Regions from separate parts of the Homo sapiens genome. Here region 1 is linked to region 2. Evidence: fine-mapped expression QTL. A gene starts in region 2. The other region holds a variant in brackets. All regions are shown on one strand. Distances are between the middles of the regions.

Region 1 (5,374 bases), 26 kb before region 2:
GAAAGTTTCCCGGGATTCACAGGAAACTGACAAGGAAAGGTTTCACAGAGAATCGGAGAAAAGCTGAAATATCCCATTGATCTCATTCGCCATCCTTATATTTTTCAAGCTATAAACTGTAACTTCTTCTTAACAAATGCTAAGAGGCAAATGCTCCCTGGAAACAGGGTGGGATCCTGTGTAACTGTGGCCCAGATTTCTCCTGTGGAGACCAGCCCTTAATATTGCTCTGAAGACATTACATAAGTGGTTTTCAAGCTTCCAGAATTAATAGTTCTGGGATATCATTCAACAGAAACAGCTTCTAACCAAGGATCAGGATACCCAGCTCATGCCAGCAGCAGGGGCTCTGTCAACACCAACCCTCCAACTCCTTCAGGGACATTTGAGACCGAAAAACCAACCCTAGCAGTCCATCCAGGCAGTCGCCTGACCAGTTAGGAGATTTTATCTTTCCTTGCTCCCTTTCCCAAATATAAGGGTTAAAATTCTACCAGGAACAGTCGACAATTCCTTTGTGAGGACCAAGCCCAGTCTACTTTTCTTCTACGGCACCCCATTTCCACAAATTCTCCTCTCTGTTGCCAAAACTAGCAACCTCATGATGCCTTAGGGTGTCCCACAGCCGGCAGGCCCAGCTGGACGTGTCAATCACTGTGGCACCCACTGCGTCCCCACAGAGGTCAGAGACCCTCAGCCCCCCACCCCCCGGTATCACCCTTTATTCCCAAGCCTCTTACCAATGGGGCTGTACCGGACTGGCTGTCCATGCTGAACGGTGGGGAGGGGCTTCTGTACTCGCAGGGACCCTCCCCACTCGTGGGGTCAGTGCTGTTAATAGTGCCAGAGAGAGGCCATGGGGAGCACGTGGGGTGAATGGGGAGGTGGCCAACTGAGGCTGCCACAGCCACCGCTATGTCCACCCCTGTGGTCCGAGAGGGCCGGTCACTCCAGCGTGGCTTCTGCTCTCTCCAGAGTGGTGTCAGAGACTGTTTCAATGCGCTGGAAACCTGAAATGAAAGAGGTGCACAGGGCCGGACGCCGTGGCTCATGCCTGTAATCCCGGCACTTTGGGAGGCCGAGGCGGTCACGAGGTCAGGAGATCGAGACCATCCTGGCTAACATGGTGAAACCCCGTCTCTACTAAAAATACAAAAAATTAGCCGGGCGTGGTGGCAGAAGCCTGTAGTCCCAGCTACTAGGGAGGCTGAGGCAGGAGAATGGCGTGAACCCGGGAGGCGGAGTTTGCAGTGAGCCCAGATCGCACCACAGCACTCCAGCCTGAGCGACAGAACGAGACTCCATCTCAAAAAAAAAAAAGAAAAAAGAAAAAAGAAAGAGGTGCACAGGGCTGGCCACAGGGGCAGGCTGGAGACACGGCCCTTGCCACCGGGATCAGAAGGTCCCTCACTGTGTGCCGTGGTGATGCCCGGCCAAGCGAGGTGGCAGGGAGGCGGCCCCAGCACGCTGAATCCATTCCAAGGAGGCTGCTTCTGACCTGTGTCACCTGCTGTGACGTCAGAGCTGGGCCCCTACAGGCCACAGCCTGCTTTGCCAGAAAAATTCACTCAAAATTAGGCTTTTTGGACTAAAACTTGTTTTGTTTCTTACTATGATTACTAAGAAAGCCCAGGATACTCACATAGAACCGAAGCTCAGCCATTTCTCCTCTGAGTACACGTTGACATCACTGAAGCCAGGCACTGACCAAGCCTGAGTTCATGCAACACCATCAGCACACAGCCTGGTCTTGGCCTCCTCATGAGTTCTTTGCGAGGCCACGCATCCAGGTACCTGTGTTCCTGCACGGAGGCCTCTAGGTTCGCAGGAGACCCAAAGCAACGGGCCGTAGGCTCACTCAGGAGCAGCTCCTAGCTCCCCACTCCGCCACGGCCCTGCGGGAAACAGCGGAGGTAGAGATGTGGTGGTAAAGCAGAAGTGTGAGAAGCTACAGTCATTTTCCTTAGGGTTGGTAAATTTCGTGCCGGCCACCATGGCCATAGGCTTAACCCAAATTAATAAAGCCCAGTGTAAAGCGTGCTTAAGTTTATACACAAATAAAGTTAAACCCCAACTAAGCCATGAAAAGCTACCGCTAAAATAAAAACAAACTGTGAAAGTGACTTTAGTGTGTTCTGAGCATGACAGCTAAGACCCAGGCTGCGGTCAGCCACCCCCTACGCCTTGCCATGAGCTCAATAAAATGAGCAGTCACCGGCCCGAGTGCCGCCAGCAGCAGCCGGGACTGAGGGCAGCGCTTCGCTTCCTCGGAGGAGCCCACTGTGCCATCAACAAACCCTGAAGCCCCCACCGGCTGCTGCTGACCCGGCCACACGCCACCATCTTCAGCAAACCCTACGA[T/C]GGCCGCAGAGTGAGCACCAGCATTTACACAAAAACATCAGGTCCAGGGGTAGCTCTGAGGTGGAAAGAAATGGACCACAGAACATTCCACCCACAACAACCTTTACGAAATTAAAGGCCAAAGGAGGATGTGGCAGAAGTTAAGAACAGACAGCGTAACTGAACAGGGCCATGACCACACACACGCCACCCACCAGCCGCCTCAACCACCTCCACGGACAGAAGCTCAGGTGTGGTGGGGGTGAGCCTGACGAGGTGGGCATCCTGGAGAGCAGGTCCGGGGAAGCCCCGTGCAGCCTCTGCACGGCACCTGCTCACACCCGGGAGACTTCACATTGACTCCACCACTCTGAACACAAACTAGTCCCAAATCAACAAAACTTAGCAATTATATGTATTTAGACCAAAACATGTATTCACAACAAAAGGTATAAGAGATAGAAATTTATTTAGGTGCTACGGGACACGTACTGTAAGAGAAAGATGACAGAATAATTTAAAGTACAAAAAAAAGCAAAGCTAATCCCTTATACCATTTGCATAATAAATTTGCTAGAATGATTTTATGAAGAGAAATTTAGCTAAAACCTCTGAAAGCAGACAAGTTACTTATGGACGGTTGCAAGAACAAACTCTCCAATGTGGCAAAACGTGAGCAGAACCAAGAGCAGAGAAAAGCCATCCCGACCTGGTGATCCTGCTTATCCAGAAGAGAATCTCAGCTCAACTTTAAATTACCCCAAGAAGTATACATCTTAATGTAAGTTTAAATGTTGATCTAAAGAGGGACAGCTCCTTAGAAACAGGAAGCAACCTTTTATCCAGAGTAATTTATTAAATTTCTGGAGTTGTTTAAAAGTAGCCACCAAATAAGAGCGTGTTCAAGTTAAACACTCAGCAGACCTTAGTTTCAGCTCTCTCTCGCCTCTCTACATTTTACTGGATTAATCTATTTATAAGTAGAAGAAATACTGTTAACACAGTAACGAAGAGCAAATTCTCCTTGTATAAGCTTGTGTTAGATCACACATCCACTGATAGGCAACAACTGGATAAAACTAAACTAATTGAACGATTGTTTATTCAAATAATTGTGAACCCAACACAGCCATGCACTTAAAAAAGATTTAAAAAGTCAAAAGAGTCGAGCAAATGTAAACCCTGCAAATGACCGCAAAGCTGCGGGCAGGCTGTCACCCTGTCCCCCCGCTCCCCGTCCCCCCTGTCACTGTCCCCCATCCCCCTGTCCCCCATCCCTGTCCCCAGTAGAAGGCCACCAGCCATGGACAGCACGTGGCTGGTGCCTCCCACAGCTGCCCGACCTCCACACAGAGGAGAGCTCTGGAGAGGGAAGAGCCTCCACCATCCAGAGCAGACAGCATGGGGCGAGGGGGCGTCTCTGGACACTCACGGAGATGAACGAGGCCTGCTGGTGAGGCTGCCTCCAGCAACAGTGAGTGAGGAGGTGCTGCCGGGGTGTTGGGGACCGCTGTAGGTGCTCTCTGAGTCACATGAGGTTTTGAAGGGTTTTGAGGAGGTGAGAAGACACTCAGAGCTTTGTTTTCAGAAGATCCCTCCAGCTGCTGGTAGAGAATGGAGGGAAGTAGGCCTGGGAGCGGGAAGCCCACTGCCTCTGCCCCAAGCTGCAGAGTGGCCATGGGGTTGGAGGGAAGGAAACTGAGCCCCAGTGTCCCAGGAGGCCTTGGAGACTGGCTGGATTGGAGGGGAGGGAGGGAGAATGCCAGAGGAAGACTGACAGCTCAGTCTGGAGACAGGTGAGCAGTGGGTTTGCAGCTGTTCCCTGCAGTGCTACCCACAAGGGTCCCCAGCGACAGCAAAGCATGACACCAAGGAAGCTCACATTTTGAGAATTTTACTTATAAATATCAAAACCACATGGACTCTGGTGACGTCATAATTCACGGTAAACCTCAGCTTTTAAACCAGAGGCTCAGACAATGGTGTGAGTCGCTGACTCACTCGGCAGCTGCAAAGTAAGGGGCGAGCTTGTTTTCCTTGAGCACCTGCTTAGGAGTCCTTTCACAGAGGTTTTTTTTTTTTTGGAGATGGAGTCTCATTGTGTCACCCAGGCTGGAGTGCAGTGGTGCCATCTCAGCTCACTGCAACCTCCACCTCCCAGGTTCAAATAATTCTCCTGTCTCAGCCTCCTAAGTAGCTGGGATAACAGGCATGCACCACCACACCTGGCTGATTTTTGTATTTTTAGTAGAGACCGGGTTTCACTATATTGGTCAGGCTGGTCTTGAACTCCTAACCTCAGGTGACCCACCTGCCTCAGCCTCCCAAAGTGCTGGGATTATAGACATGAGCTACCACGCCCAGCCAGGAGTCCTTTCACAGAAGTTCTGTTTCACAGTAGCACATGGTATACATTGTGGGGCTAGAACGAAGAAAGTGCAACGTTTCCCATATTTTTTGTCTGTTGGAAATGTTACACTAGACACACATCAATTAAGGTGACAGAAAAACTTGTGCAGCCTCCTGGAACAGTGAGCCTTTTTCCTTCTCGATCACTGGGAATAGACATCAATGGGGTTTTGCATATTTCCCTCTCACAGAAATCCTACTGGGCACTTCAGCGTAGCTTACACAGAAAGGCAGGTGCTGCACTCATCACCGAGGGCAAAGAGACACTCACAATGGCAGCTGAGCCGCGGGTGGGGTGTGCTGGGCAGAGCATCAGCTCCTGGGCTAGGGAGCGCAGGGGTGCAGGAGTTGATTTGGGATCCCATAGCTTCACTGGAACACTTTGTAAACTGCAAAATTGTATTTTTTGCAAGGTGGAATTTATTTACTCCTTTCATTTTCTGGGCTTCATTATTCAAATAATTAGTTAAGAGGATCAAAATATGTGTGTGATACTCAGCACATCAGACAATATTCTGCTTCTCATGGGCAAACACAGGGGTGTGAAATTCCTTATCGTTAATAAAAGCAGCTCTGTGGGACCCGTTACGTCCCCAAGCCGGAGCACCACGCTCCTGTGTGGCCT
Region 2 (5,374 bases):
ATATGATCATTTCAATAGATGTTGAAAGGTATTTAATAAAATTCAACATCCATTCTGATTTTTAAAAAACTCTCAATAAATAAGGTATAGAAGGAATGTACTTCAACACAAGGAAGTCCATATATGATACACCCACATTTAATATCATACTAAACAAGGAAAAATGGAAAGGCTTTTCACTAAGATTGGAACAAGGCAAGGATGTCTGTTTTCACCACTTGTATTCAATATAATACTCAAAGTCCTGGCCAGAGCAATTAGACAAGAGAAAGAAAGTAAGGGTATCCACATTGGAAAAGGAAGACATCACATTATCCTTGTTTGCAGATGACACAATCTTATAGTTAGAAAAACCTAAAGACTACACACACACACACACACACACACACACACACACACACAAATCAGAACCAATAAATTAATAAAGTTTCAGAATAAAAAATGATCATATAAAAATCAGTAGCATTTATATACATTAACAGAGATCAATCTAAAAAGGAAATCAAGAAAGCAATCTCATTTACAGTAGGTACAAAAAACATACCTAGGAATATGTTTAACCAAGGAAGTAAAAGATCTCTACAAGGAAAACTATAAAACACTGATGAAAGAGAAGAAGAGGGTACACAGACACAAATGGAAAGATATCCCATGCTCATGGATTAGAAGAATGAATACTGTAAATCACCCAAAGTGATCAATAGATTCAATGTAATCTCTAGCAAAATACCAATGATGTTATTCACAGAAACAGAAAAAAGCATTCCTACAAGCGTAGGAAACCACAAAAGACTCCAAATAGCTAAAGCCATCCTGAGAAAAAAGAACAAAGCTGAAGACATCACACTGCCTGATTTCAAATTTTGCTACAAATGTATAGTAACCAGAACAGCACAGTACCAACACTAAAACAGACATGTGGACCAATGGAATAAAACGATGAATTCAGAAATAAATCCACGTACTTACAGCCAACTCATTTTTGGCAAAGACATCAAGAACATACATTGGGGAATGGACAGTCTCTTTGATAAATACTGCCAGGAAAGTTAGACATGCAGAAAAAAATGAATCGAGACCCCCCTCTTTTACCATATACATACATCAAATCAAAATGGATTAAAGACTTCAATGCAAGACCCAAAACGATAGAACTACTACTAAAAAATAATACGGAGAAACATTCCAGGACATTGATCTGGGTAAAGATTTTTTGGTAAGACCTCAACATTACAGACAACTATAACAAAAATAGAAAAATAGTATTATATCAAGCCAGAAAGCTTCTACACAGCAAAGGAAAAAATCAACGAAGTGAAGAGACAACCCACAGAATGGGAGAAAATATTTGCAAACTACCCATCCAACAAGGGATTAGTAATCAGAATATATAAGAAACTCAAACAACCCAATTAAAAACTGGGCAAAAGACCTAATAGACATTTCTCAAAAGAAATGGCCAACACGTACATGAAAAAAGGCTCAACATCACTAGTCATTATAGAAATGCAATTCAAAACCACAAGAAGATATTATCTGACCCCATTTAGAATTATCACAAAGACAAAAAATAGCAAATGCTGATGAGAAGGTGGAAAAAAAGGAACACTCATACACTGTTGGTAGGGATGTAAAGTAGTACACCCACTAGGGAAAACAGTATGGGGGTTCCTCAAAAAACTAAACTAGAACTACGTTTGGTATAGTCCAGCAATCTTACTGCTGGGTATGCATCTGACAGAAAGGAAATCAGTATATCAAAGAGACATCGGCCCTCTCATGTTTATTACAACACTACTCACAATAGCCAAGACATCGAATCAACCTAAGTGTTCATCAATAGGCGAAAGGACAAAGAAAATATTGTATATGCACACAATGGAATACTAGTCAGCCATAAAAAGGAATTAAATCCTGTCATTTGCAGCAGGATGGATAGATCTGAAGATCATTCTGTTATGTAAAATAAGCATGACACAGAAAGACAAATATTGCATGTTCTCATTCATATGTGGGAGCTAAAACAGTGGGTCTTGTGGATGTTGAGAGCAGGATGGCGGATGCCAGATGCTGGGGTGGAATGGTGGAGAGGAAGATGAAGGGGAGCTGGTTAAGGAGTACAAAAATACAGTCAGAAGGAATGAGCTATCACATGCAGTATAGTAGGAAAATTATGCTTAATAGTTTATTGTACATATCAAAATAGCTAGAAGAATTGTAATGTTCTCAATACAGAGAATAAAAATGTATGAGGTCATGGGTATCCCAATTACCCTAACTTTATCATTACACATTTTAAACAGATATCAAAATATCACATATAACCCAAGAATACTACAGATATTATAATGAATTAGAATTAAATCTTCCAAACTATACACGAGGGTGTCTTTCCATTTATATAGGTTTTAATTTATTTTGGCATTGTTTTTCTGTTTTCATAGTACAAGTCTTCTGCCTCCCAAGTTACATTTATTACGAGGTATTTTATTGTTTTGTATGTTATTGCAAATGGTATTGTACTTTTAACTTCCGTTTTAAATTGTTTCTGTCTGGTATACAGACGCACAACTGATTTCCATGTGTTGATCTTGTTCTCTGACACTTTGCCAACTTTTCCACTTCTTTAAAATCCAGAATAAGTATGGCCTGAGACAAGGGAGGTTTGTGTATTCATGATGCATATGTATAGTCACGTGTATGTTGCTTGCGTATATACCATTCAATAATCAATACATAAATATAAATAATATGTATCTCCATTTTAACAACTGTAATTTATTCCTAAAGCCATATTTAAAAATAATTACATTTTTAAATGGGAAAAGTCGTATGAAGAATTCTGTCCCACCTCAAGATAACTAAACAATTTTTCAGTAGAAAAATAAATCTAAAAACAGAAAAAATATTTTAAAAGTAAATAAATCGTACATAAAACGAAGCGCAATCGAGTTTTGTTGCACTAATGCTTTCTTCCTCTTTCTACACCATTTTGTTTGCAGAATCGGCCTTTTGAAGGTTCCGGGTTACCCTGCAGTGAAGCTGTCATTCAAGCACAGTCAGGGCCCAGGAGAGGGCGCAGGGAGGGCGCAGGCGCGCAGGGAGGGCTGGGCATGCGCTCGGCGGGGCCTCCGGCTCTCGGGGACGCGCGCGGGCGGGGCTCGCCGGGGCTGAACCGGCTGAGCTTCCCAGGGACGCCCCGACCCAAGCCCTGCAGTCCGCGCGCGTCAGGGGTGTGCGCTGGAGGCCGGAAAGTCGAATATCACTTCCCATCCTGCATTTGATGTGCTTTGGGGTTGAAAAAGCCCTTATGTGGTAAAAAAAAAAAAAAAAAAAAAGTCAGAAAAGTGGCAAAAGTCTTCAACGGCCTGAAAAAGGCCGAGACAGGAACTGAGAAGCTGGCAGTAGGTCCTGCTACTGCTGCAGGGGCGGCGGGCGCCCTGGGTGGGCCACGAGGCAGGGACAGCCGAGGCTCCGCGCTCACCCCACCCGCAAGGGGCCAAGCGCAGACTCAGGGGAGCCAGAGGGGCCGGACCGCTGAGCAAGGGCTGGGGAAGGGTGAGTCAGGGGCCCCTGTGGGACTGCACGGGGTGGGGGGCACGGGCCCGGACCTCTCTCACAAATGCCCACGTGGTCCCCAAGGCTAACGCCGGCTGCGTGGGCCGCAAGCTGCTCTGGGCCCGCAGCTCACTCCCCTGGGCACAGGGCTGACACCCGGGCGAAGCAGGAGTGTCCCAGCTTGCTTCAGCCCCTCCCCTGGGCCCCCAGGCTGGTGGCTCCAGAAGGACTTTACTAAGAGGGTGGGAAGCATCAGTGCAGGTACCTGCCCTGGGCTAAGGGCCTCGTGTGGGTGATAGCCCTCAGCAGGGCCCTCCCATTTGGGCATTGGCAGCCCACAGGGCTGTGGCCGTGGAGCTGGAGTGGCAGCTCCTGGATCACCCCACACCTGCGTTCCTCAAGGCCTAGGCACCACTTGCTCCATGGTCAAAAGCATCACTTTGTGAAACGCAGACTGAGCAAAGCTGGCCTAAGATTTTGGTCCTCCAGGAATGACGGAAGGAGCCCTCTGCCCCCATGTAGCCTATAGCTGGGACACGCAGCAGCCAGTGAGTTGGTCACGGTATGAAGGCTTCTCTCCTCCCGGCAATCACAGATCCCACGCTTGGATACTTGGGAGTGAAGATGTGTTATTTCACCCACCGACTCGTTCCACACGACCAAGGCCTGTGCCTGCCCTGAGGGCGAGTTGGTTGAGCCTTGTACAGACAACTCTCAGAGCGTGGGCCTGGGCCGAACCTTTCCCTGTGAGCAGCAGCATCAGCGTCTAGAACGACGGCCCTCCCGGTCCACGGTGGAAGGTGCGGAGCTCCCGTGGTGTGCTGGCAGCGATTCGCAGAAGGGAGATGGAGGGCCACAGGGCAGGTGCTCGCACGGAGTCATCGAGGTCCAGGGACACCTTCCTCCCAGGTGAGCTCACAAAGGCACCACACATTAATCCTGGGAGACAACCATTCTGATGTGGCTAAGGCCATCGACAGGGAACATGATTGTCAGGAAACCTCAACTTTTCGATAAATGACAGCAAAACCTGAATGCAGGAGAAATGTATCTCATTTTAATGCCTGACTTCTAAGCATCCTTATTCAACATATTATATGTATTTTTTGTTTCATGAGTAAAATGTACATTGAGCTTCCTCCAGTAGCTGTCCATAGACCAGCCACTATCACTGCCATCATTATTTTGTTTCTAAACTTTTCTTTTTACACATGTAGGTCTAGCTTTTTCCTCCATATTGATGAACTAAAACTCACTCATTTCACAACTCAAAGCCAGGGCCTTCAGTTCACAGCCCGTTGCCTCAGACGGCCTTTCCTATATCTTATTGCTTCACTGTCTGACTCACTCCAGCGTGTTTCAGCCAAGTATACTTGTTTTTATTCATCTTGCTCTCTTTTCCTCCCTCCCCCAACTCCCCCTCTTTCCCTCTGTCTCTTTGTCTCTTTCTCTCTCCCCCATCCCTCCCTCTCTTCCCCTTTCTCTCTGGATGCCCTCTCTCCCTCTCTCCCTCCCTCTCTTCCCCTTTCTCTCTGGATGCCCTCTCTCCCTCTCTCCCTCCCTCTCTTCCCCTTTCTCTCTGGATGCCCTCTCTCCCTCTCTCCCTGTTTTTCTTCTCTGTGTCTGCCTGCATAATATTCAGAAATCCCAACAAGAGCAGCTGGAGCTGCTAAAGAAACCCCAGCGTTCTGTGCTGCTGCCATTGCCTCCTCCAACTGGTGAGCCCGATCGGCCCATTTTTAGGCAGTGCTGTGGTTGGAAATGGGCCCTTCCTCTGGGGTCCGCTACTTCCCTCCACCTGACTCAGAAGAATGAG

The links. PIP is the estimated chance that this variant, and not a neighbour inherited with it, causes the effect.
Region 1: its variant is the best candidate, but not a certain one, in a credible set for the expression of THBS2-AS1 in whole blood (TOPMed, PIP 0.64).

What each region holds. Positions count from the first base shown.
Region 1 is chr6:169,184,431-169,189,804 of GRCh38, forward strand. No RefSeq gene overlaps it. Among named protein-coding and RNA genes, the nearest start is that of LINC02544, 4.4 kb to the left of the region's middle. RefSeq lists enhancers at 872-1,371, 3,408-3,909, 3,910-4,409. The variant T/C (reference allele first, on the strand shown) is at 2,362.
Region 2 is chr6:169,210,021-169,215,394 of GRCh38, forward strand. It overlaps THBS2-AS1 (THBS2 antisense RNA 1), which reads left to right and starts at 3,192. Exons shown (of 3, transcript NR_134621.1): 1 at 3,192-3,558; 2 at 4,154-4,467. RefSeq lists a silencer at 2,931-3,280.